4 linked regions of the Homo sapiens genome follow. The protein of the gene in region 1 interacts with the protein of each later gene in a pairwise test. Each region holds a gene or a part of one and is shown in the gene's direction. Other genes may lie near its edges. The genes, in order: TPRG1, HSD17B11, SLC71A2 and CGRRF1.

What was found.
Region 2: the proteins of TPRG1 (region 1) and HSD17B11 interact in binary tests that used the Homo sapiens proteins (3 or more experiments, as listed by UniProt).
Region 3: the proteins of TPRG1 (region 1) and SLC71A2 interact in binary tests that used the Homo sapiens proteins (3 or more experiments, as listed by UniProt).
Region 4: the proteins of TPRG1 (region 1) and CGRRF1 interact in binary tests that used the Homo sapiens proteins (3 or more experiments, as listed by UniProt).

The regions. Positions count from the first base shown.
Region 1 is NC_000003.12:189,314,947-189,321,976, forward strand, and holds part of TPRG1 (tumor protein p63-regulated gene 1 protein), read left to right. Parts: intron 1-546; coding exon of another isoform or gene 547-582; exon of another isoform or gene 583-747; intron 748-5,679; coding exon 5,680-5,874; 3' UTR 5,875-7,030.
Region 2 is NC_000004.12:87,381,159-87,388,188, reverse strand, and holds part of HSD17B11 (estradiol 17-beta-dehydrogenase 11 precursor), read left to right. Parts: intron 1-5,826; coding exon 5,827-5,934; intron 5,935-7,030. UniProt on the Homo sapiens protein: Can convert androstan-3-alpha,17-beta-diol (3-alpha-diol) to androsterone in vitro, suggesting that it may participate in androgen metabolism during steroidogenesis.
Region 3 is NC_000009.12:94,454,539-94,461,542, forward strand, and holds the end of SLC71A2 (hippocampus abundant transcript-like protein 1), read left to right. Parts: intron 1-1,701; coding exon 1,702-1,799; intron 1,800-3,783; coding exon 3,784-3,926; intron 3,927-4,622; coding exon 4,623-4,874; 3' UTR 4,875-6,504; downstream 6,505-7,004.
Region 4 is NC_000014.9:54,526,876-54,533,905, forward strand, and holds part of CGRRF1 (cell growth regulator with RING finger domain protein 1), read left to right. Parts: intron 1-3,173; coding exon 3,174-3,351; intron 3,352-4,027; coding exon 4,028-4,175; intron 4,176-7,030. UniProt on the Homo sapiens protein: Able to inhibit growth in several cell lines.

The DNA.
Region 1 (7,030 bases):
ATGTCTTTAAAAAAACTTAATAAAATAAATTAATGAGACATGGTGGCATGTACCAGTATTCCCATTCCAGTTACCTATAATCCCAGCTACTTGGAAGGCTAAGGCAGGAGGACTGCTTAAGCCCAGGAGTTCGAGTCTGCAGTGCAAGTCTGCAGTGAGCTGTGATTATACCATTGCATTCCAACCTAGATGACAGAGCAAGATTTTGTCTCTTTAAAAAAAAATGAGGACAGTTATTCAGAGGGATTAAGTGACTGAAATCATATAATAATAGTTCTATGTTATACCCAGTTTCCTAATATTCAAGGAAATGGGTATAAGCCTGAAAGAATTGTGTGTGTGTGTGTGTGTGTGTGTGTGTGTGTGTGTAAGGGGGGGTGAGAAAGAGAGAGACTGTGTGTACATTTGTATTAATTGATGTGATATGGTATAATATTGTATCTCAAAACCTGGCTCAATTATCCTCAATTATTTCATCCACTTTGTATTTGCAACTTATAGCCTTACCTTTTCTTTTTTAACCATCGCTTTGCTGGGTTCCTACAGTATGCAGAGACTACTGCTGGGAAGGATGAGTACTGAACCCAGAACTGATGAATAGCAGTGAACGCATTATGTGTGCCCTACAACCATCATGATCTACAGACCAACCATTTGTACTCTTTTCTTGTATTTCTATCCATCTTTTCAAGGGGATCATGTAAATGAACCAATGTTTTAGCAATTAAATTTAACTTTATACTCTTAGCCCTTTGTTTGCCTTTTACAACAATTCAACAAATATTCATTGAGTACTTACCTGGCAGTGACCATTACATGATGAGCAATATTCTGGATTACCAAGAAGAATAAAACTGATTTTGCCCTACAGATACTTACGGCGTAGGGGGAGGAGGCAGCAAAGACTTTCACAAATTATAATTTAAAGTACTAAGATTGTAAATAGGGGGAGCCCAAAAGTGGGAACAGATAAGTCCAAAAGTTAACAAGTCTGATGACATTTGATATGAAACTCAAGGTATGGGTGATTTAAGCACCAAAGAAGGTGGGAAAAGACATTTTAATTAGAGGAAACATGCTTAAAAGCTGCGAATTACAAAGGTATACAAAATGTTCTCCGATAAAGACTAATTCAGTTTAGCTAAGTTTAAAGTGCACTTGTGTGTGTGTGCACATATGTGCATATGTTCAGAGAGGAGGGTTGGGGGATGGGATAGGATGAGGATGGAAATTGCTATGGGTAGAAACCTCTCTTGTGCAAGAAAAAAGAAGCTACTGCCTCTTCTTATTTGTCTCTATGCACTTGAATTTATAGTCACAGGGGCTCTATGAGGATAATTCCAGGAAAAATGTGCAAAGATGATATATACAGTCTGTCCAGCAGTGTGACTTCTCAAGTGATTTCAAGTACTGGGTATTGGATGGGCGTGCCCTCTATGACAGGAGACTTGGAGACTTCCTTCCATACACAGGGAGGCTGAAACCTGTAGCCTGCAGGCTCAGAAAACCAGCTCAACTGAGGAATGTGGGCCTACAGGCATGAAACCTGGTCTCTTTACCCAGTGTAAACAGGAAGCCAGTGATGGTTGTAATAAGGAAAACTGAGACTCCAGGCAATGAACTGTTGGCAGACAGCACCTAAAGCAAACCTGTGGACCAGGCACTCGGCTGGTAAATAATTGGTGGAAAGTCAAGAATAATACGATGTCCCCCCTGTCCCCACCACGCACACTGCTGCTATACTTTATCCTAACCAACACACAGCCCCTGTGTAACTGGAGTTGTTAAAACCTGACCCTCTGTATTTGGGACTGAAATAAAAGAGAGAGCCAGAGGTGGGTGCATAAAAGCTTTTAGGGAAAAGTATGTGGCTGGTGGCATTCATATCAGATGACACAGCGTTCCTGTCACATAGATTTAGTTCAGGTGCTTGAAATGCTCAAGAGCCAGCTCGGGGACTTGGCCTTTTGTCTGCCTCTCCTTCAATGCACTGCTTGTCACCCTGCTTGTCTCTCTGTAACCATGCCCTCCCCTGGCTTTGAAGGGGCTCCTAGAAATGACTGGAAATGAAGTCCATCTGACTCCAATGAAATGCCAAATTCATTGAGTATGAAATAGTGCCAACTTTTACTTTCTAGCACTTTGATTTTGAGTCTACAGAGGATTCTTAAGGAAAGAAGTTTATGATGAAGCCAGAGGAAGCATTCAGTAATCCAACTGGACAAGATTTACTGATCTATGAAAAGGCATCCTGATAATCCAGACTTTGGATAATCCAGACTTTGTTGCAATAGAATTGTTGAGATGAATTATACTTTGATTTTTAAGAGATCATGGTTTGGTAATGATGATGAGGATGATGTCAGTGATGATTAAGCAGTTATTATTTATTGATTCCTGGCAACAAGCTTCCTTTATGGCCTTTGCAATATAACTCCAAATTTCAGGCTCATCTCATTCTGCTTTCCTAATCCTTTATATAATATGTGAGCACACAAGTGCATGTATGTGCACCCCTCCATTCACAGCGTGTATACAAACACTTTATTTCACTTAATCTTTACAACCACCTGATAAGTTTGATACTATTAATATTCTTATTTTATGGCAAAGGAACTATAAATTTCAGAGAGGTTGGATAACTTGCCCAAAGTCACACAGCTATGTGAGTATCATAGTTCCAACTTAAGACCCCTCTGCCTGATCCTATACTTCCTTTAGTTCAGTGGTTCTCAAGAGAGGGTGATTTTTCCCATGGGGGACATATGACAATGTCCCAGTGTCCCAGTGAGATATTATCGGTTGTCATATCAAATGTATACTTACAAAGGTATATAAAATGTTCTCTGATAAAGACTAATTCAGTTTAGCTAAGTTTAAAGTGCACTTGTATGTGTGTGCATATATCTGCATGTGTTCAGAGAGGAGGGTTGAGGCATGGGATAGGATGAGGATGGAAATTACGATGGGTAGAAACCTCTCTTGTGCAAGGAAAAAGGAGCTACTGCCTCTTCTTATTTGTCTCTACACACTTGAATTTATAGTCACAGGGTCTCTATGAGGATAATTCCAGGAAAAAATATGCAAGGATGATATATACAGTCTGTCCAGCAGCGTGACTTCTCAAGTGATTTCAAGTACTGGGTATTGGACGGGCGTGCCCTCTATTACAGGAGACTTCCTTCTATACACAGGGAGGTATCTGTCTGGTATCTGGTGGGAGGAGGATAGGGAGGCTGCTTAACATCCTAACATGCAGAAGACATTCTCTGCCATAGCAAAAGATTGTCTGGCCTAAAATAGCAATAGTCCCAAGGTGAAGAAACTTTGGTTTAGCTGTACAGACAGCCACATTTGTGACTCTACTTCATAGAAAACCAGATGAAATATTTGAGTGGAGGTATAGGTATAGGAAACACATAAGAGAAAAAAAGGTCAACTTTTCCCTTGAGTTTGTGGGAAGGCATTGTGGAAGATACAGGATTTAAGCTTGGTTTTGAGAGATGTGTTGGAGAGTCGGCACTATAGATCTTTTTGGATTAAATCATTGATTGCCAGAGCTGAAGTTTCCTAGGCAAGTGATTTTCATTTAAAAAGAAGTAAAATCTTACTTGGAACTCAAATATATAAAACTGATCATAAAAATAGAGCAGCTCTGATGTGATTGAAGAGACTAAAATAAGTTACCTGCTTGGCTTTTGGCTTTTTGTTGACATCCTCTCCTCGAAGCCTCAGGTACCTGCTGTCCCAACATTATTCACATAGCACTTCCTTTCTTTTCCAGAGAATTTAGATTTGGATGATAAATTATATGTACCCACCCAATCTGTGAAGAGATCTAGTGTTCTAAAGAACATGGTTTAAAAATTAATGAATGTAATATTTTCTCCCTTTTGCAAATGAGGAACATGAATTCTTCCCTAAATATCAGAATTTTAAAACTAAATTTTCTAAAAATTAGAATTTTATAATTCCTGCTCATAACAGCAATGTTATAAAGAGAGGACTTCAGGAGTTAAGTCAGGAGACCTGAGTCCAAGCCCTTGCTCAATCATTTACTAGTTATTTGGTATTGGGTAGATCCCTGTAACATTTAGATCCTCAGTTTACCTACCAGATCCCCTCTACATTGCCCACAATGCCTAGTATCTTATCCAACAAGAGTTTCCTGAATTTAATTCCTACTCTCTGTCCCATATCCTATCATGTTTAGGCTATTAACTTCACTTTATGAATATCATTCTTGACTTCTGGGTCTGTGATTATTATTATGAAAAATTTATAGACATGGACTTTTTATCTGTATATTTCTTCATGGTCCCAGATTCTATATCCAGTTGCCTATTGAAAATCTCTAAGAGGATTTCTGGTGAGGTAACTCAAACCACGTGTCTGCAACAAAATCCTCCATCCCTGTATCTTACCATTTCCAATCTGTACCTCTCCTAGGCTTTCTCAACTCAATAATAATATCGCTATCTACCCAGTTGCTCAGGCCAAAAACCTGGGTGTCATTTTTTTCCTTCTCATTTCTTCATCCCTAAATTCAATCACACCAACACATTCTTTGGCTTGAACCCCCTGCCCCCCAAATCCCTAATTTAACCAGTTCCGATGGTCTCTACTGCTACACTGTCCAAGCCACCGTCGTATCTTGCCTGGACTCCTGAAGTGAACTCCAAACTCATCTTGTCTTCCTGCTTCCATTCTTAGCCCTAAGAGCATTCTATTTTTGACTCCACACAGTAGCTAGGATTATTATTATTTGTAAAATAACAGCATACAACATTGAACTCCTTCCTAAAATCACATCAATCCAAAGCCCTTAATATGGCCCTGAAGACTCTTCATGCCTAGTGCTTCAACCTCTTTCCTTTGATCACTAGACTTCTGTCTAAAAGGCGTTTTCTGTGTCCCTTGAAGAAGCTAAATTCATGCCTCCCTTACAGCTTTTGCAGGTGCTGTGTTTTCTGCTTGGAATTTCTTCTTCACGTAACTAGCTCTTTTTCATTGTATGGGTCTCAGTTGAAGTTTTACCTCCTCAGAAAGACTTGCCCTGAATACAGTATGTGAAGTAACTCTAACTTTCATTACTTTTTATCCCTTTACCACATTCTATTTTCCTTCTAGAATTTATCACCTTCAAAATTTTTATGAATATTTTTTGTCTGCAATCACGAGAATGTGAGCTCCATGACAGCGGGGTTTTTTTGCCTGTCTGTTCAACTTAAAATGTCCCTGGAACTTGTTGTAGGCGCTTCATCAATATTTCTTAAGTAATTTCAGATGCCCTTTCATCTATTAGTGACAAAGAGAGTCAGTTTACAGTACTAATACCGATGCAAATTATTTGTATACTAACAAAATATTAAAGCAGCTAAAACTAAAATGGTACTTGGTAGACTTATGTGGATGATAAACAAACTGAAAAAATTACATATTATTTCTGACATTAAGAAGCAAAATTGGGCCTGAGGAAAGTTAGTCTTAATGGACTTAAGCACAGTTATTAACTGAATTAACTTAATAGAGATAAATTTAACCATTTATGTTTAAGAAGTAAGAATAACTGCAGCCCCAGGAGAGTAGTCAACTTCTGTGAAGACTGGCTGGGGAGATGAGTATCTCTCAACTTAATCTACAGTAACTAACTTTGTGCCTTCTTTTTTTCTTCTTCAGTTGTCTGGGTTCATGTCTAAGCTTGTTCCAGCTATCCAGAATGCCCACAAGAATTCAACTGGATCTGGAAGAGGAAAGAAACTGATGGTGTTAACTGAACCCATTTTGATTGAGACCTACACAGGGCTGATGTCATTCATTGGAAACCGCAACAAACTTGGCTATTCCCTTGCCCGTGGGAGTATTGGTTTTTGAGAGTCTTTTTGGTACCATAAGCATATCATCCACAGATATGTCACTTTGAAAATTCCAGTTTGACCCACGCTATTTTTGGACTGAAACAATTAATTATTTTTAAATGACGCTTTATGATTTAGAAATTTAGTATTTCCGAAAATTTAAAAGCTTGATTGGACTGATAGATACACACTTTAGACCTCATACAAGAATAATCAAATTTTCTTAAAACTAGAAAATAAATGCTGCTGAGCCTATCAAATACTGTTATCAAATGAGTGCCTGATCATCAACTCAGGAAAGAAGACTCTAAGTCCTGTTGCTTCAGCTCTCTAAATGTAGGCTTTTTTTTTTTTTTTTTTTTAGGTCTTGGTCTTCAGCCCTCTTATCCTGATTTATTCTCTCATTGGGGTCTCACTGTCTCTAGTATTTTAGCTACCACTTGATAAGGATGACTTCCAAATTTATATTCCCATTCCCAATATTTATTCCAAGACTCAGTTTTGCATTTCTGACTGCTAATCATCTATATATCAGTGTCCCAGTGGCCTCTTAATTGAGCATTATCAAAATCCTGTGGTATTTATATGGTCCCAGTTATCCATCCCTGAAGTCTGTCAATTTTGATTTCTCTAAATTCCTTGCCATGACATCCTATATATGATCACATCTCTATACGGCTTAGCATTGTATTCCGATGCCCAGATGTCAAACTTGAAGCTCATTCTCTTATCAAAATTGTTCATGTATTCCTCCTTTCCATTCTTATAGCTGTATTATTAGATCAGGTTTTTAATTCTGCTCAACCAATTATTACCACAGCCTGTTAAATGGAATCCCTACTCCAAGGCTGACTGTTTCAATCTATCCTACACTTGGTTTCTAGCTCATTTACTTATACCATCTTTTGTTCAAATATATATTTTTTAATAACAGACCTTTTTCTTCTAAAGAAATCTTTTGTAGAAGCAGCATATACGAAGCAGATAAAAGTAGGTTCAATGCGGTTGGAGTGAAGATGAGAATGCCACAGGCATCTTTCTTTCTAGGCCTCAGAGGTGCTGCATATGGAATGTCCATGGATCGCAGAGGGTTTTGAAGACCATGTTTTCAAAAACACTGTCTTAACACTCTATTGTCATTGCTCTTTTCCCTCTTATTTCCTCTTTGTCTC
Region 2 (7,030 bases), on another chromosome or scaffold:
CTAGATTGTTTTTTTTTTTTTTGGTGTGACTACTAGAAAGATTAAAATTATATACATGGCTTGCGTTATATTTCTATGAGACAGTACCGGTGTAGAGATTTAAAGGGCTGGAGCTACAGATGATAAAATTTCCTGTATTTTGGCTTTTTACTCTGGGGAGTCAATGAAGGGTTTTGAGGGTAATTCCTATTGAAGAGGATCCTCCAGCTGCTGGGCTTAGGAGAGATGTAAGAGGAGAAAAGATGGAAGGAACAAGTAAAGTAAGAGACTACTGTGATAATCCAGGCATGAGATGAAATGATGGGGACTATTGAACCGGGTTGGCAGTAGCAGAGATTCGGAGTAATGGTCAGAAAAATTGAGGACAATGTAGTGAGTTTTTATTAGGTTAAATTAGTTTAATTTAAATAATCTATATTTTATTTTGAGATTATATCCTTCCTACTTTTTGTGGGTAAAAAATATATTTGTTAATGAAATTACATGATAACATATGAGGGTCATTTTGTTAGTTTTGAGTGTCCTTATTTGGCCAAAAGTTTGGCAATCCTAGTTCGGTATACACATCCCACTCTATTTTTCTTGCCGTTTTATAGATTTGAAATTATAGAAGGCTGAGAACCACTAAACCTGATTGGGAAAGGACAGGGTGGGGATTTGGAGCAGTCCAGGTAGCAGAAACTGGAGATGTGAAGCTCTTGGGCTGGTGAATACCTGGAGAATGAGGAAGAAAGTGGAGTGGTGTTTGATTGTTATGAGATCTAGCTGGCAGGGCAGGGAGGGGCCAAACGGAGGGCCCTTTCACCTAGAGTACAAAGACAATCTCTTAGATTCATCCATGTAATGAGGACAGCAGTGTCCACATGTACCATATGTTAATTTAGGGAAGAATTAATGGTGGTGTCAGCTTTGTTGTTCCACTAAGCCTGATAATGGGAATTATTCATTCTGCTTTGTGATAATCTATCACTTCTTGACTATTCTCATTCCCATGCTTGGTTAGAATAGTTTGTAGCCAGGCATGGTGGCATGCTTCAGTAGCCCCAGCTACTCAGGAGGCTGAAGCAGCAAGATTGCTTGAGGCCGGGAGTTCTGGACTGTGGTGCGCTCTGCATGTCTGCATAAGTTCAGAATCAATATGGTACCTTCTGGCGGTGGGCATGAAGGAGACCAAGTTGTCTAAGGAGGGGTGAACCAGCCAGGTTGGAAACGGAACAGGTCAGAGCTCTGGTGCTGTTCAGTAGTGGGATCATGCCTGTGAATAGCCACTGCACTCAACCTGCGCAACAGGGAGACCCTTTTTCCTAAAATACTAGTTTGGAAAGAAAAATTTACAGTAAGTGGTGAGCATATAATATATGCTCAAAGACTATTTGTTGAATGAAAAACTGAATTAATGAATAACTGAAAGAATAATGGGCATAATTTAAAAAGTTTTTCAATTTTTAGTAATCAAGGTAATGGGTGTAAAGGTCTTAGTTGTACCAATAGACAAACATATTTGAAAAAAGTTACCAAGGGAAATCTTGAAGAGTTATGAGCAATTGTACTGTGCTGCAAAACATTTTAAAGGAAGAATTCATTTTTTTTTTGAAGATCTGCTTATTTTTTATTTCTTACCAACTATCTACAGGGCACTGTCCGGAATTTTTTCTGGAGGAATTTAGAACTTAAATTTGTTGCACCGGCCGGGTGCAGTGGCTCACCCCTGTAATCCCAGCACTTTGGGAGGCCGAGATGGGAGGATCACTTGAGGCCAGGGGTTCAAGGCCAGCCTGGGCAACATGGTGAAACCCCGTTTCTCCTAAAAATATAAAAATTAGACGGGTGTGGTGGCGCATGCCTGTAATCCCAGCTACTAGGGAGGCTGAGGCAGGAGAATCACTTGAACCGGGAAGGCAGAGGCTACAGTGAGCTAAGATTGCACCATTGCACTCCAGGCTGGGTGACAGAGCGAGACTCCATCTCAGAAAAAAAAAAAAAAGTTTCACAATTCAGAAGGTGTGGAAAGCAGACCAACCTAAATGAGGAAGACCAAGGAAACAGGGCAAAAGTGAGACAGCGGATGTGAAAGAAGGGTATCTTTGCATCCATATAGTGGAGTGGTGGTTAGTTGCTTGGTGGTTACAGAAAGCCAACCAGTAATAAGCAAATCTCTGAAAACAGAATAAATGGGACATAAATTTTTATTGTAAAATTTGTTCATGTAAGGAAATATATTTGTTCAAAAAAGAGAAGACCCAATCAATACAATATACTTTTTTTTTTTTTTTTGAGATAGAGTCTCGCACTGTTGCCCGGACTGGTGTGCGGTGGCAAAATCTTGGCTTGCTGCAACCTCTGCCTCCCGGATTCAAGTGATTCTCCTGCCTCAGCCTCCCAAGTAGCTAGGATTACAGGTGCCCACCACCACACCCAGCTAATTTTTTATATTTTTAGTAGAGGCAGGGTTTCACTATATTGGCCAGGCTATTCCCAGAATCCTGACCTTGTGATCTGCCCACCTCAGCCTCCCAAAGTGCTGGGATTACAGGTGTAAGCCACCGCACCTGGCCAATACAATATACTTTTAAAAAACTTTTTAAAATATGGTAAAATATATGACATAACACACCATTTTAACCATTTCTGAGTGTACAGTTTAGTGGCATTAAGTACATTTACCTTATTATGCAGTGATCTCTTCTATTTCTCTCCAGAAATTTTTCATCTTCCCAAGATGAAAATCTGTACCCATTAAAACAATATATCTCCCCAGCCCTCTCTCTCCCCAGGTCCTGGCAACAACCATTCTATTTTCTGTCTCTATGAATATGATACTCTGGGTACTGCATATAAGTACATTCATATGGTATTTGTTTTTTGTGTCTGGCTTATTTCATTTGGCATAATGAAGGTTGTACGTGTAGCATGTGTCAGAAATTCATTTCTTTTTAAGGCTGAATAATATTCTATCCTATGTGTATACAACATTAATATACTTGTAAAAGGAAATGCCAAAAGCTGCTGGTTAAGTATAGGAGAGCAAAATAAAGTTTACCTGAGATGTTGATGTCCCTTGAGGAATAAGAGTTCCTCATGAGAGTATACTACAGTTTGTGAGGGAGATTTCAGTAAAAGAAAAATATTGTGGGAACCTGCCCCCAATATTTCAATGTAGCTTCTTTCTATTTTCCATAAGTGTCAGCCGGCTGAGAAATAAAGAGAGACAGTATAAAGAGAAATTTTACAACTGGGCCGCTGGGGGTGACATCACGTATCATGATGCCCCTGAGCCTCAAAACCAGCAAGTTTTTATTAAGAGTTTCAAAAGGGGTGGGGGTGTAAGAACAGGGAGTAGGTACAAAGATCACATGCTTCAAAGGGCAAAAAGCAGAACTACTGATAAGGGTCTATGTTCAGTGGTGCACATATTGTCTTGATAAACATCTTAAACAACAGAAAACAGGGTTCGAGAGCAGAGAACCGGTCTGACCACAGATTTACCAGGGCAAAGTTTTTCCCCACCCTAATAAGCCTGATAGTACTGCAGGAGACCAGGGCGTATCTCAGTCCTTACCTCAACCACATAGGACGGACATTCCCAGAGCAGCCATTTATAGACCTCCCCGTAGGAATGCATTCCTTTCCCAAGGTATTAATGTTAATATTCCTTGCTAGGAAAAGAATTTAGCAATATCTCTCCTACTTGCACATCCGTTTATAGGCTGTCTGCAAGAAGAAAAATATGGCTCTTTTTTGCCCGACCCCACAGGCAGTCAGACCTTATGGTTGTCTTCCCTTGTTCCCTAAAAATCACTGTTATTCTGTTCTTTTTCAAGGTGCACTGATTTCATATTGTTCAAACACACATGTTTTACAATCAATTTGTACAGTTAACACAATTATCACAGTGGTCCTGAGGTGACGTACATCCTCAGCTTATGAAGATAACAGGATTAAGAGATTACAGGCATAAGAAATTATAAAAGTATTATTTGGGCACTGATAAATGTCCATATTAAAATGAAATCTTCACAATTTATGTTCTTTGCCGCGGCTCCAGCCGGTCCCTCCATTCGGGGTCCCTGACTTCCCACAGGAGAAAAAGAACTTGTTTCCCTTTATTATCATAACAGTTTCACTATGCAAGCTACTAATTCTCCCCACAGCTGTCCAGATTTGGCCTTTCCAACATTAGTTGCCATTTACAAATGTGTACACTGATTCACCATCCTCTCTGTGGATAAATGTATGAGTCCTCCTAGGGTCTGCCCATTAGTGCATTAGTTGACAATTATTAGGTTGATGCAAAAGTAATTGCAGTTTTTGTCATTAAACTAATGGCAAAAACAGCAATTACTTTTCCAACAACCTAATACTTGGCCTGCAGAATGCACAATACTAGATCTTCATCCAAAATATCTTTTGAGACATTCTCTTAAAAGTTAAAAAAAAAAAAAGGCAAAAATTGGCCAAAAGCAAACAAGCAAAGATAACAACAACAACAAAAAACCCCAATGGTATGATCCTAAACTTAAGTTGACTCAAAATTGGCGCCCCAAATTGGACTCATAACCCCTTTTCCTCAAATCTGCTGTCATCTCTGTCTGACATGTGGCAGCGTGATCTTGCCAGCTACCAAAACTAGAAAGCAAAGATGTCAGATGTGGCTCCTTCCCATCCTTCCTCATCTACTCACCAAGTCTTACTGATTTTACCTTCTAAACATATATTTTAAAGGATATTCTTTCCTCTACATTTTTTCTACTAATGCCACATTTCAAGTTTGTGTCATCTATTACCTGAATCACTGTAACTGCCTCTCAGTTTTTTTCTTCCTCCAGTGTTGACCCCTAAAATCCACCCTCCATACATCAGCCAAAATAATCAATACGACACATAAACCTGACACTATAATTTAATCAGTGGCTCCTCATTCATTTTTTGATAAATCTTAATATGACATGTGGGACCTTAATCTGAACTTCTTCTGGCCTTGACCTTTATGATCCATCCAACAACACTAATCCTACTAGTGGTTTCCACAAGACCAATCTCCTATCTGTCATTGCCCACACCCTGCCTGATGTGTCCTTTCACCCTGGGGAAAGCAAGTGAAAGGGCATGGCAAACCACTGCTGGAATTGTATTGTGTGCCCCTCTGTGTTCCCGTAACTCCCTGTATAGAACTCTGCTGTGATACTCATCACAATGTATTAGGTTGAAACTGCCAATATTCAATCTTTTATTATCAAAACAATAACAGTATTACGTGGTCCTACTTAACTATGATACTTATGTTTCTTTCTACTACACAGAGAACTTCTTGGGGTCGGGACTCTACCTCATTCATATTTGTGTCAAGGTTTTTCTAAGCTCAGTGAATATGACCTTCACATTAAAATGCTGAAAGAACAAATGGTTTAATGAACTGTGGTTAACTCATTATTTCTTTTGCAGACAGTAAACTGACATCCATGAATAGTTTTTAATGACATGGAAAAAAGTTTAATGTTACATTTTTTAAAGCCTGATATGGAATACACAGAGATACCAACATTCACAAAGTATTCAAAGTTCATAAATATAAAAACTAGTATTTTAAGATTTTTATCTTCTTTTAAGAAGCTTGCTTTAAATTCAGCTCCAAATAAAAGAAGCTAGTCAAAATACTAAAAGCAAAATGTGCCTATATACCTGCCAAAAATGTGTTGTTAACAATCTTGCCCAATTCAAATGGAAAGAATCTCACTACTTTTTAAAAATTATTTTTAATTATTTTCAGCTGTCGATATAATATGTTCATATCAATTATTACCTTGCCCTCTTTTTTGCTTTTTCTAGCATGGACTGGAGGAAACAGCTGCCAAATGCAAGGGACTGGGTGCCAAGGTTCATACCTTTGTGGTAGACTGCAGCAACCGAGAAGATATTTACAGCTCTGCAAAGAAGGTGAAATGTTGTGTTTAGTTAGAATCATATCATGTTAGAGCTAGGAGGTGTTTTGGAGATGACCCAGTCTGTACATGATATAGATGAAGTACCTGAGAAATGTTGTTATTTGACCAAGGTTATAGAACTAGCTCATAGCAAACCCAAAACTAGAACCGAGAACTGAACCTCTCAAATATTAGTATGTTCTGGAATTTTCCAGGGAGTTGTTAAAAATGTATATATATACTCTTGGGCTCCACTTCCAGAGATTTTCTTTCAGTAGGTTGAAGGCAGGGCCTCAAATACATCCACCCTGCCTCCCATGCGCCTTCATCTCACCCATGATGCTCATATAGGTAACTATGCCTGGATGACACTTGCAGAATTGCTGACAGGGTCTTCTGAAGCCCATTCATAGAATTGGGTTAGAAAGTTACAATAAAGCTATTCTTTATCAGGTTTTTATTGTAGATAGATCTATTTCTTTTCTTTTCTCTTTTTTTTTTTTTTTTGAGATGGGGGGTCTCACTCTGTTACCCAGGTTGGAGTGCAGTGGCATGATCTCGATTCATTGCAACCTCCACCTCCCAGAATCAAGCAATCCTCCCACCTCAGCCTCCCAAGTAGCTGGGACCACAGGTGTGTGCCACCACGCCAGCTAATTTTTTGTATTTTTGGTAGAAAACGGGGTCTCACCATGTTGCCCAGGCTGATCTCGAACTCCTGAGCTCAGGGGATCCACCCACCTCAGCCTCCCAAAGTCCTGGGATTATAGGCATGAGCCACGCTCCCAGCAGATCTATTTCTATAAAGCATTATTTGCCTCTTCTAGATACAATTGAGATGTGCTGTATATAATGGGGTTTCACTCTGAACGCATTCTCGCTTGTACCTGTTAACTAAATACCTTAATGGCAGCAAGGTCATCAGAATTACCTGGGCAGATTCCTTAAAATACACATTCCTGGACCTTACCCCTGGATATTCTAATTCAGTGCAGTATAAAAAGTGTGATTCAGCAAGACTTGAGAACCTCTTTGTTTATGGAATTTTTGGTTTGAGTTCTTTTTTTTTTTTTTTTTTTTTGAAATGGAGTCTCACTCTGTCGCCCAGG
Region 3 (7,004 bases), on another chromosome or scaffold:
GTATTTTTAGTAGAGATGGGTTTCACCATGTTGGCCAGGCTGGTCTCAAACTCCTGACCTTGTGATCTGCCTGCCTCGGCCTCCCAAAGTGCTGGGATTACAGGCGTGAGCCACCGCACCTGGCCACATATGCTAATTTTTAGAGACATTGAATATAGTCAAAAGCAAAACAAGAAGATACAAAAAAAATGACTGATTATGGCAAGCTTCACTATGACTTATCATTACCTATCAGTAACATAACCTTGATAAATCATTTGAGTTTGAACACTAAAATTTCTTCCAAAACCATGTGCATTCTGCCGCAGTTATTACTACCATATTAGATTCCCCCATAAACAGGAAGGAAGGTCCAAATAAGCTCAGTGGAATAAGAAAAATTAGAAGGAATCGTGAGTTTTGTTTTGTTAATGTGGCAGGTTTCTCCATGTGCCTGGTGGGCAGATGCAGAAATGCCTTCTCCATTTTAGACGGTAGAGCTGGTCCTTACTTTGGACACAAACAGACAACATAATTTAGAGAAACTAGAATTGCCTTAGTTATCATGTTTAGTTTGGGGAGTAAGTACATATGCCCCTTCTGAATTTTGGAATTTCATTTGATCCGCTTGCTCTTTCCTTTTTTTTTTTTTTTTTTTTTTTTTGAGAGAGAGAGGGTCTGGCTGTGTTGCCTAGGCCAGAGTACAGTGGCACAATCATGGCTTACTATTACAGCCTTGCTGCCAGCCTCAAGCGATCCTCCCATCTCAGCTTCCTGAGTAGCTGGGAGTATGTACACGCACCACCACGCCTGGCTAATATTTTGATTTTTTTTTTACACCATGCCTGGCTAATATTCTGATTTTTTTTTTTTTTTTTTTTGTAAAGACAAGGTCTCATGTTGCCCATGCTGGTCTTGAACTCCTGGGCCCAAGCAATCCTCCTGCCTTGGCCTCCCAAAGTGCTAGGATTACAGTCATGAGCCACTGTCCCTAGCCGTCTGTGACTTTTTACCAGATTAACTTGCTTGATTCTCCTTGTTCTTTTTGATTTTGCTCCTGTGAACTTTGGTTCAGTAGCTGATTTAGTCACATTCATGTAGTGTTAAAAAGACTTTGTCATCATGTGAGGTTTTTCTTTTTCAGTAATGACCATCCCAAAGTTGGGGCCTCACTTTACTCACTCACACTTCATACTGATACATAGTTAAGACTCTTATTGAGAGGAGGACAAAGGTCTAAAGAGGAAGGCAGGTCTGTTTTTCCAGTTGGGGGCACACCATGCTCTCTCTGTTGAGGGGTAGCAAGCTGTAGCTCGAGGGCAGTGTGAAAGTGAGCCTTCAAGAGGTACAAAGAAAAAATGAAAGGTCAGTGGAGAAAATGTGGTATTTATAGCAACAAAAGAAATCTCCTTGCGAACTTCATTGAGCTTATGTCTAAAGATAGCAGTAGGGAGACCAGGGAGAAGAAAAGTTTGTAAAAGAAGTAAAATCAAGACACAAAGGTTTCCTGGCCCTTCTGTCCCCATCCTAGGCCATTCGTTTCCTCCAGTGTCACATGTAACCTTGTAGGTTAAAAAAAAAATGCATTTTTAAAGAGGAAAAAATAAATAAAATGTAACAGGAGAAAACAAGGCATTTGTACTTTTGCCACTGATTGCATTCCGAATAGTGAGCTCCTTGAGGTTGACCTGCTGCCTGACTGTGCCTGTCCTGTCATTGCAGGATGATGTGGGCAGCAGGGACCGTGGCTGCCATGTCCAGCATCACGTTTCCGGCAATCAGTGCCCTCGTCTCTCGGAATGCAGAGTCAGATCAGCAAGGTGAGGTCACTGCCCCCCACTTGTTTTTCTCCTTCAACGGGAGACCTCCCTGCTAGAAGCAGGAGCAGCTCTGAGTTCTCCCCATCAACAGCAGGAGCCGACAGCCATATGGCCCCTTTTATCATACCTATTTACTTTGGCAGATAGGAACATTCTATTTTCCTCTCTGCTTTGATCTTACACTTATATTTTTTAAAGCTAGACTTAGCAGTTCAGATTGCTAACAATTAGAAATAGAACTATTCATTTTCCCTTTTCAGTTTTGATACATCTTTTCTTCTTTAGTGTCACAATTAAGCAGACTATAATCACATTTTAACAGATGTCTATTAAATAATGAAAAACCAGTTAACCACGAGTTACTTAATTACTTTATTCACTAATTATTTGGAATAACTCAAAGTCTTTGAGCTTAATTTAGAAAATAGTTTGAGAGTAGTAAGAAAAAGTCTGTGTGGTTGTTGATAGATGTTGAGTGAGAGATGAAATTAAAATTAAGACTGCTATGTGGAAAATAGCATTCTACCATCTAGATCCATATCCCATCCTTCCCATGCCTCTGCTTCCCTTCCTGTCCTGTCTTGTCCTCCCTCCATCCCTTCTTCCCTCTTTTCCCACCCTTCCTCCCCCCACCCCCCACCTCCTACCCCTTACAGGGTCTCACTGTCACCCAGGCTGGAGTGTAGTGGTACAATCTTGGCTCCCTGCAGCCTCCGTCTCCTGGGCTCAAGTGATCTCCCAGTCACCCTCCCAAGTACCAGGGACTAGAGACGCACACTACCATGCCCAGCTAATTTTTTGTATTTTTAGTGGAGATGGGGTTTCGCCATGTTGCCCAGCCTGGTCTCGAACTCCTGGGTTCAGTCTGCCTGCCTCGGCCTCTCAAAGTGCTGAGATTACAGGTGTGAGCCCCCATGCCTGGACTGCTTTCCTTTCAAGCAGTTCCCATGGCTAGATTTAATCTCTTTCCTTCTCTATCTCCTAATGGCTCACCTTATTGTATTCAGGAAGAAGTAGACAATTTTAGAGGGAGAAAAATTTTTTAATGCCTAAGAGCCCTTTTTTTTAAAAGTTTTAGTAAAAAACTATATTGGAAAGGATGGTTTATTCATTGCATTTTTTTTTTCTATATCAGAAGTTAGGTATCTTACTCAGATTCATTGTTAAATATTGTCCCTTGAAGACCACACATTCTGTATGTCACTCCTGGCTACAGTAACTCAGTTGGTTTGCATCCTTAGGGAGGTGCTGTGTCTGAAGTGAAGATGTGATGACCCATCCGTGGAGGACTGTCACTGCCTTGGCATCTGACAGACACCGTCCTGTCATTTGGGGCATGGATTTTCTTTTGACTTTTTATACTTATTCATGTCAATATACATGTTTCTGAATGTCAGCATATAAAAGTTTTGGAACACATTGTATTAGGCTGAATTATATACTACCATTTTTGATTTACAGAAACATTCATTTCATACAGTTCAAGCTAACTTTTTACTTGCTATGTTAGAAAGCAGAGATATTTAGGAATTTGGCACTTCTGGGTTTTTCAGTGTAGGTCTCTAGGGAGATAGGCTGGAATACACCTGTGAAGATGAAGTCTGCCTACTGGGGACTGGTCTGTATTCCTGACACCAGGGCTGCCAGAGGTGAAGGGCAAGTTTTTGTTGTGAAAGCACCAGTAAATGACCAGAGCAGGGAAATCTCAGTTGACAGAAAAGTGGACATTGCCTGAAATGGGAAGATATTAAAGTTTTGGATTGTATATGTTTTTATGATTTTATATGTTTTATATGGTTTTATTAGTTTTGGATTTTATTTTATAATGGATAAAGTCTTCCTAATCTACTTTCATTAGCATGCTTTCTCTTTTCCTCAGTCTTGCCGAATTAGTGTATCATGGTTATGAGAAAGTACTGTGCAGCTCCAAATCTTGAGATGCCTTTCTGAGAAGACTGGCATTATTTTCTTTGTTCTGATTTAGGAGTTGCCCAGGGGATCATAACTGGAATAAGAGGACTATGCAATGGCCTGGGGCCAGCACTGTATGGCTTCATATTCTACATGTTCCATGTGGAACTGACTGAGTTGGGCCCGAAATTGAATTCTAACAACGTTCCCCTGCAGGTAATTTGGTCATAAGTCTAGTTTTGTAACAACAATTATGTATGATTATAGCAAAATCTTGTGACCTTAAATTTGGAGAGCATTCTTTCTTGTATGTTACTATATTTTATTTGGCAGCAATAAGTATTGTGTTCATTGCTTCTCGGGATCAGGGAGGGGTCATTTTAGTGATTTAATATCTTATGTAAAAGATATGTCTTAACTTTGTTCAGATTCTGTTTTCACCTACACAATCACTACACTATTCTCTGGATAAGCCCAGGCTAGTTAAAATTTGAAATGACCTAAAAATCCAGCTAAAAATTGAGGTAGGGTACTTTTTGTACTATTTATTTGAAATTTCTTCCCTTGTTCCCTCTAAGCCATATCTATACAAAGCTGGAATTAATGTTCATGTACAAAGGTGCATGATCTGAAGTCATAGGATGGGATTATAGGTAAACAGCTGTTGCTTACAAGCTTACAGTTTTGCTTAAGCTATTTGGAAGTGGTACAAAAAGCAGTTAATTAGTTGCCCTTTGTCATATTCCAAACACCAAGCTCTAGTGGAGTTTGCCTTGACATTTAATGAAACATTTGCTTATGAGAATATGATTCACTTTTTGGTGGTGTGTTTTTTTTGGGTAATCTAGGAATAATTTTGAGTTAAAAGACTAACTGTATTCTTTGTCTCCACTTGTTTTCCACGTTCAACAGGGAGCTGTCATCCCAGGCCCGCCGTTTTTATTTGGGGCATGTATAGTCCTTATGTCTTTTCTGGTTGCCTTATTCATTCCTGAATACAGTAAAGCCAGTGGAGTTCAAAAACACAGTAACAGCAGCAGCGGCAGCCTGACCAACACCCCAGAACGGGGCAGTGATGAGGACATTGAGCCACTACTGCAAGACAGCAGCATCTGGGAGCTCTCTTCATTTGAGGAGCCTGGGAATCAGTGCACTGAGCTGTAAACTCGGCAGAAAGTGGGATTCTGCATACGCCATCTCTGAGAGCCATGGAGGGAGCCACACCCCTGGTGACTTCATGGTGCTGGATGGGAGACGCTAGCGGCATCCTTCAGGGCCAAGTTTGATAAATACCACCGCCATCATTCTGCTCATCCTCCTCCTGTTTTTTTTTTTTCTCTTACATTCTTTTTTTTTTTCCTGTTTATACATTAGAACAAGATAAGATTTGAAATACTTCCTTGCAAATAATGTGCAACTCCCAAGGTGAAACTCAAATAGAAAAAGTCATCTCTCTGGTAGAAAGGATGGCTTTCCTGTAATGACTATAGAGTAAGAGTGGCAGCAATCTTTCCATGCCCTTTTCAGCAGAAGGCACAGAACAGTAGCGGGACTGCCATCTCTGGCAAGATTTCAGGTAAAGAATCTCTTCTTAATTTCTACCTTCCTGTTTCTCTGAATCAGCCCATAGGTGTTGATGAGTGGCCACTCTTAAAGAGTCACTCAGTATCAGGGATCTACTGTCTTTGTTCAAAGGTCAAATAAAAACCTAGTCTCCTTTTATTCTACTTTCTATTCTTAGCTAGAATGAAACTCAGCATATATACACTTCTGGACATAATAATATTGAATAGTAATTACCTTTACTAGATGAAAGAAATTTTCATTACAAACTTAAATCATGTAAAACTCAACAACTCAGATTCCTGGACCTGGTGTCCTGGTTGGGTCCAAGGTGATTTTACAGAAGAAAAAAACAACTCAAGCATTCTGGTGGCAACATAGAGATTGTAGGCTGCTTCTAAGAAAGTTATTAACAATTTGGAAATTCCTAAGTAGGATGAGAGTTAGTAACTGGATACGAGTGAAGTTTATATCCAAGTTCAGACTCAAAGGCATTATTATGATTTGCTTCTTCCCATGTCTTCCATGTCCTGCTTCTCAAAGTTTTTCTCATCCATCACACTCCTGCCTTAACTGCTCTGAGTATGCATTTGTTTTCAATTCATCTTTATTTCAATCTGTTTAACTTTTGAATCGCATGGGAATACGCACATTAAGTTCCTTTCTAAAATAAGGTTTTATGAAGCTGAGTTTCACGATAAGTGTCTTGCTATTTTTTGAGATGTTTTATGGACAAAGAAAACTTTACAGATTTATATGTATTTTGCTGCACCAGTAAATGGACCATTAACTAGGGCCCACCTTTAACAGAGCACCCCTTTGAAAGTTTTATAGGTATGAAATATATGTAGATATTTGTAAAGGGTTTTAATTTTTTTTTTTTGATGGGGTGCTGTGTAAATCTTGTATTTATAAATGTAATGAAGGTATTGACAGAAAAAAATATATACAACTTTTATAAAGGATTGTGTACTGACTGAATACATTTAAAAGAAAATATATTTTGAAACCTGTTCTGCTATGAACAGAGATAACATATCTTTTTACTATGCTATTGGTTTTTAGGTTAAGCTTCCTAATGCATAATAAATTTACAGTGGTTACTTTTATGTCTTGTGTCTTTTTTTTAAAGCAAATAGTATTGCTCTTTTGGGTTCTCTGTTGGGTGGCTTTCAATTAAACTGAGTTGTAATCTTTCAGCTGATGCAAAAGGTATGTATTTTCAAAAAAATTTTATTTTTAACAAAATTCCTTCAAAGTCTCCCTTCAAAAACATCGTAACTACAGATGCTCCTTGAAAAAAACATCGTAACTACAGATGCTCCTTGACTTACCGATGGGGTTCCATCCTGATAAGCCCATTGTAAGTTGAAAATATCATACATTGCAAATGCATTATTAACACAGCTTAGAAGCTTCAGCACTTTCGGTATCAGCACAGTAGAGTATTGGTTGGTTGTTTACCCTCCTGAGTGCATAGTGATTGGGAGCTGCAGCTCACTTGCCACTGCTCAATGTCACGAGAGAGTATCATACCACATATCGCCAGCCTGGGAAAAAAAATCAAAATTTGAAGTATGGTTTCTACTAAATGGGTATCGCTTTTATACTGTCATGAAGTTGGAGACCATCTGTATTTTTATTTTTAAAAAGCAGGGACAGAACAAAAACGCGTATATCCACGTTCATAGCATTCATAACAGCCAAAAGATGGAAAAAAACCTAAGTGGC
Region 4 (7,030 bases), on another chromosome or scaffold:
TTTTATTACTGCTTCTCTCACAGGGATCCTTCCTCAAGAAGGTTTGTGGCTTTTCCGCCCCATCATTTCTCCCTTTTTAGTGGCTTAGCATATTTTCTACAGTCCTTATTTTTTTCACTTTTTTGCAAGGCTGTCTCTTACACTCCGCTTTATTTGCTTGTTATAGATAGTCTGGGTAAGGACAGTTTGAGAGATACCACACCCATGTGCTTCACTTATTTTGATTCTGAATTTTCTTACAGCTACGTCCCAATTCTGTTAATGCTATTGATCTAAAGTGATGTCATGTGTGTACTGAGTTTTAGAAGGCAAAAAAATACATAAAAATTGAAACTCTTTGCAAAAAAAAAAGTGGAAAAGGTAAAGGGAGAATAGTTTTGATGGGGGTACTGACACTGTCTTCAGATAGTGGAAATCATTACATTCTCCCCTCAGTTTATGTAATGGACAAGTTTGTAAAAGATTATAGAGATATACCTAATGCTAAATGACGAGTTAATGGGTGCAGGACACCAACATGGCACATGTATACATATGTAGCAAACCTGCACATTGTGCACATGTACCCTAAAACTTAAAGTATAATAATAATAACATTAAAAAAAGAGATTATGGAGAGTATAATTTTATAGATTCTGTAGTTTTTTTAAATTAATTTTAGAGACATTTTAAGATCTGATTAATCTCCAGTTGTCAAAGGTCTCTGACACTCTTCCCATTTTAGTTAAGTATACAAAGTCTATAAACGAGTCTCTTAAGTAGCTCTGAATCTTTGGGGCTCTGGCTTTTTTTTTCTTTTTACAAAGCAAATAAACAGGGTAGTTTTATATGTTCTGTAAGCTGTAAGTTGAGTTTTAAAAGGCTTATCCTTCCATTGTTCTTTTTTTTTTTTTCTTTTTTTGAAACAGGGTCTCACTCTGTCATCCAGGTGGAAATGTAGTGGTGTGATCATGGCTGACTGCAGCCGTGATCCTCCTACCTCAGCCTTCCAAGAAGTTAGGACCACGGGTGCGTGCCACCATGCCCAGCTAATTTTTGTGTGTTTTGTAGAGACATGGTTTTGCCACGTTGGCCCAGGCTGGTCTCAAACTCCTGGCTCAAGTGATCTGCACATCTTGGCCTCCCAAAGTGCTGGAATTACAGGCATGAAACACCACACCCAGCCTGTTCTTCTTTAATGTAAACAAACACATATATGGGTATCCATTCTTGTGAGATAAACAGTAGCATATATATTTAATTTTCTCTACCTTGCTTTTTTTTCATTTACTAATATATTCTGAAGATCATTTCATAATAGTGTGTGCAGATACTCTGATATACCTCAATTCTTTTTTTTTTTTTTTTTTTTTTAAGAGACAGAGTCTCACTGTGTCAGCCAGGTTGTAGTGCAGTGGCACGATCTCGGCTCACTGTAACCTCCGCCTTCCTATTCACTTTTAATAGCTTCTTAGTACTTTATTGTAGAGTACTATATTTATTCATTTAATCCGCATTGATGAACATTTGGGTTTATTCCAGCATTTTGCTATGATAACTAGTGCTATAATGAGTAGCCTTATACATATATCTTTTCACATTTTTGCTAGTAATACAATAATAAATAATCATTTTGTGTTTCTTGTTTTTTCTTTTTCAATGTTTTAAAATATGCATTTTCTATTTTTTCCTTTCGTATCTACCTCCAGCTTTTTTCTTCTGCCTCATGTTATGTGGTTCTACAGTGACAAAGGGAAAAATATGTGTGATTTTGTATGTGTGTGTATATGTGTGTATATGTATTTGTGTATGTATAAATAAAATGTTTTCCTTCAGCTATTTAATATCAAATGGAATTTTTCATTCTTGAGTTAATACCTGATGATTGGAATCATAAAAATTTGAAATCAAAGCCTGCTCCAATTAACCTATGCAAAGTTCCTACCAATTAAAATTTTTCCTTAAGTATGATTAGAAATGGCCATGTATCAATGCTACTCAGACTCTCAGACTGTGTGTACATACTACTAAATACTGAGAGTAAAATTGGAAAAATCAGTTTTTGGTATCCTGTGGAGCATCTGCTTGTATTTGTGTATCTTCTTCTAACATATACTCTTGATCACATTTTAAAAAATAGGTAATATATCAATCAGAATTCTTATTAGCAAGCAACAGAAACAACTTCAATAAAAGGATATTGGGTAGCTTACAGAATTGCTGGCAGGTTTGGAGAGCCAAAATCAGATGCCAAGGCTGTTGAGCCAGGAACAATGACCAAAACCAGGCCCTTTTTATCTAGTCAGTGTATCAGTGCCAAGGAGTACTACACGTTACAGTTTGCGCTGCTACAGTTTGCACCCCCAGCAGTATGAAAGGCTGGATGTTGCTACCCTTGAATGTGATATTGCTACAAATACCACTAGGAGGGGGAAATCACATAGGTGACACAAAGTAAGTCCTATACAAGTGTTAAATAAAACTGTATAATTTCACATCTACTTACAATTTGTATATCCATTTAATCAGGTCTACTCAAATTGTTATATCTTCTTAAGTTGAAAGTGAACAACTGAATTAAGATACCACTATTAAACTCTTTATGTTTTGGAATCCCCACTCTTTTCCTCAGGATATTTTGCATATTACATGGGACATTAAGTCTGTGACAAGCCTGTATGTTAATGTTGTCAATGTATACATTAATGTTAGTAAAGCTCAGTTTCTTTTTAATATTTTTCTTACAACAGCGATCATGTTGTGGAGCCTATAGGTTGTACATATCCCCTTTAGAGGACAGCTGTATTCTGCTGCACTGTTTCTTGTCGTTAGGATCATATACACTATGAGAGTGGTAGGTTATCAATAGTGAACTGTATTTTAGTTTTAAAAATCTAGATGGGAAATGTCTTAGAGTCGCCAAAAAAGAAAATTAACAGTTTCTAAGCTTTAATAGATAAATAGTAAGAAATAGTTTTTTGATAGCTCTCAAAAAATGTGTAGACATTGAGCTTTTATATCTCTTGTTACAGAGGCCAGTTCCTTCGTTTATAGGAGGCATACCCTTTAACAAGTTCTTTTAACTGCCATCATCCTGGCCAGCATCCAAAAGGAAGCTTTTGTTACTCACCCTGTATGATTGTATTAGAAGTTACATTAAATCACTTTCATTCTTTCTCCTTTGTTTTTTACAGCTGGCATAACCTTGACAACAGATTGCCTTGAAGATAGCCTCCTTACATGCTACTGGGGGTGCAGTGTTCAAAAATTATATGAAGCTCTGCAGAAGCATGTTTATTGCTTCAGAATAAGCACTCCCCAAGCATTAGAAGATGCTCTGTATAGTGAATATCTCTATCAGGAACAGTATTTGTATCCTTTCGTCTGATATACCCATTAGCACTGAAAATTAGACTTCTTATGGATAAAGTGTTGCTAACTTATTGATCATTCTTGGTATACTAGAAGCATGTTTATTGCTTCAGAATAAGCACTCCTCAAGCATTAGAAGATGCTCTGTGGAGTGAATATCTCTATCAGGAACAGTATTTGTATCCTTTCATCTGATATACCCATTAGCACTGAAAATTAGACTTCTTATGGATAAAGTGTTGCTAACTTATTGATCATTTTTGGTATACTAGAAGCATGTTTATTGCTTCAGAATAAGCACTCCCCAAGCATTAGAAGATGCTCTGTGGAGTGAATATCTCTATCAGGAACAGTATTTGTATCCTTTCATCTGATATACCCATTAGCACTGAAAATTAGACTTCTTACGGATAAAGTGTTGCTAACTTATTGATCATTTTTGGTATACTAGAAGCATGTTTATTGCTTCAGAATAAGCACTCCTCAAGCATTAGAAGATGCTCTGTGGAGTGAATGTCTCTATCAGGAACAGTATTTGTATCCTTTTATCTGATATACCCATTAGCACTGAAAATTAGACTTCTTATGGATAAAGTGTTGCTAACTTATTGATCATTTTTGGTGTATTTTTGTTCTTATGGTTATAGTGGCAATTTACCTTTACATTTTCAAAAAGTATTAAAAAGGATAGCAAAGAAGAAATATATTGCCAGTTACCAAGAGATACTAAAATTGAAGACTTTGGTACAGTACCCAGATCTCGCTATCCATTGGTAGCGCTATTGACCTTAGCTGATGAGGATGACCGGGAAATTTATGATATTGTAAGTAATTGAAAATTTTGAAAGCATTACCTTTAAGTGATTTGAATGGTGGTTCTTCATTATTTGATAAATAGAAAAAGTTTTATTTTAATTTCTGAGGATGTGCATTTGGCCTACAACAACTATATACCTATTTGGTTTTTATATGTGAAACAGTACCTTCAGATTATGACTCATTTCTTGCCTTATGGGTCACAGTAATATGACTTTATTTGGAAAATAAAAGATATATAATGGTTGAATTAAGTTAGTTTCATCATTAACACCTATTTGGTTGTATACACCTATTTAGTTTTTATATGTGTAACAGTACCTTCAGAGTATGACTCATTTTTTGCCTTATGGATCACAGTAATATGACTTTATTTGGGAAATAAAAGATATATAATGGTTGAATTAAGTTAATTTCATCATTCTGTATTCTGTCATATTTGCTGTATAGAAACAGTCTGTTGGGAAGCATGTTTATTCTGAACATGTTTAGCAGTGAATAAATAAGCACAATAATGATCGAAAGTGCTCAATTTTAAGATAGTATCCACTCTTTTTTTGCCTGCTTGCAGTCACCTTGTTTCCATCAAAGTCCCTGCTGCACCTATATCTTATATGTCTGGTCCCTGTATTTTCAGTAATTATAATAATCTCCTTTCCTCATTATGTGCTAATTATTTTTTCAGTCTGATAGTTGATTCCTATTAGGAAGTTAAAAGTATCTTAGAGATCTAAGAGGACTGAAACTTTGACAATCATCTGAGTATAATAGAAACTTAGACATGAAATAAACTTTTGATGAAATTGTATCATGGTAAAAATGTCCTTACACACAATTGACTACTTTTCTGAAGTATTTAATATAGATTATTCATTAATAAACATATGGTAACATTGTTTTGTGATATTCGTAATATGCAAAGTACGTTCACAAACATGAACTTATTTTTTTCTTCTAACAACCTGGTTTCTTAGGACAGGGCAAATATTCTCCTTTCACAGACTGAAACAGAGTCAAGAAAAATCCCAGTCATTCAGGCAGTAAGAGATGGAACAAGAGCTTGACTCTGAGCTTTTTGTGTGTGTTTGTTTGTTTTTGTTTTTTGAGTTTATTTTTTTTAGCAGGAATATCTTCCTGCAACAAGTGTACATTGAGCTTTGGAAGGTAAAGACTCTTTGGGAAATCTAGACCCTTCTTACTCATTTGCAGTTAAGCACCTAGGTTTTTGGTTTTTAATATTTTCAAACTGAAGTTCCATTGAGCTGAGGTCAGCTTATTTTTTCCAAGTCATGGGGAGCAGAGGGGAAGGAAATGGGGATATGTAGGTCACTAGAGACAAAGTTACAGATACATAAAATGAACAGGTCTAGAGATCTAATGTACAGCATAAAGACTATAGTTAATGTGGTATTGCTTTTGGGATTTTTGGTGCTCTTGCCACATGCAAAAAAAGTGGAAGTAACTGTGTAAGATGATGCGTAATTTGCATTATAATAGTAACCATTTCACTAGGTATATATATATCAAAACATCCTGTTGTACACCTTAAATATATACAATAAAAATACAAAATACAAAAGTCATACCAGCAGTAGTGTATTTCCAGAACCTAGTACAGTGCCTAGGATATAATAGGGGTTCAATAAAGATTTGATAAGTAAAAAAAAAAAAAAAAAGTCATACTAGACAATGTTAATGAGCCTCATAGAGCTTGACAGCGAAACACCTTAGCTGTACATCCCATGCACCTTAGCGTGCATGAGAGGCCTTCTGGCTTCCTCCCTCCTTTCTCTCAGTTTCAGTTAGAGATAAATAAAACCTGTTAAATTGGTGTCTCCTATTTCTAGCTTCTTTGTTCTTGACCCTGTGTACTTGGGCAAGGAAGCCCTTCTGCCCCCACTGTGTGCCCCATCTCTGCTGAGTTTCTTGGGTTCTGTTCTCCTTTTTCCTTTGGTTCAGCACAAAAGGATCAGATCGCAGTCATTTTCCCTCCCAGCTTCCCCATTGCATTCCTTTTCCCTTCACTGATAGTGCTCTCTAGGTGCTCAGGGTCTTTTTTTTTTTCTAACTTTCTTCCCCTGTCCAAACAGGGAGTGATTGTGTATCTGTGTGGTAAAATATATATATTTTATATATAAAGTTTACCATTTTAACCATTTTTGTGTGTGTGTTTTCAGTTCAGTGGCCTTTTAGGCCAGAGAAGAGTTTGCTCTCAGGTCCCTGATCACACTGGATGAAGACTGTGTGGCCCAGCTGTAGTTGTGGGAGGCTTGTTCCCATAGGGAAGCCTGAGTGTCTCCCAAGGGTTAACAGCCATCTTCTCTTGTGCTTTGTGTATGTCTCTGTGTCTGGGTCCTTTTGAATGTCTTTTATTCTCATCTGTGGGCTCCCTCCTTTTTTCCTGTTAATCCTTGCTTCTCGTCTTATTTCTTAGATTGGGGGTAATATTGGCACTCAAATATATTTATTAGTGTATTTTGTATTAATGTTCTCTGTTTATAATTTTAAAAGCAAATGGACCATTTCCTATTTCTTTTTCATATGTGTTTTTTCAGTATTGTATGTGCGTGTCAGGGACTATATTTTTTTAAAAAATTTATTAATAAAATCATTTTTATTTTAACAGCAAAGAATTATATTTAGGTAGTACAGTTAGGAACCACTTTGTTGTTTTAGATTAAAAAAAGGAAAGCAGGAATTGTTACTACAAAATTTTGACTTTAAAATTTTTTCATTTTTAGTTAATTACATTGGCTTTTTTTCAGTATTATTCAAATAATACATTTGTGGCAGGAAAAAAAATTAGAAAGTGTAGATAAGCCAAAAGGAGAGAAGTATAATAATCTGTATTCTATCATCCAAA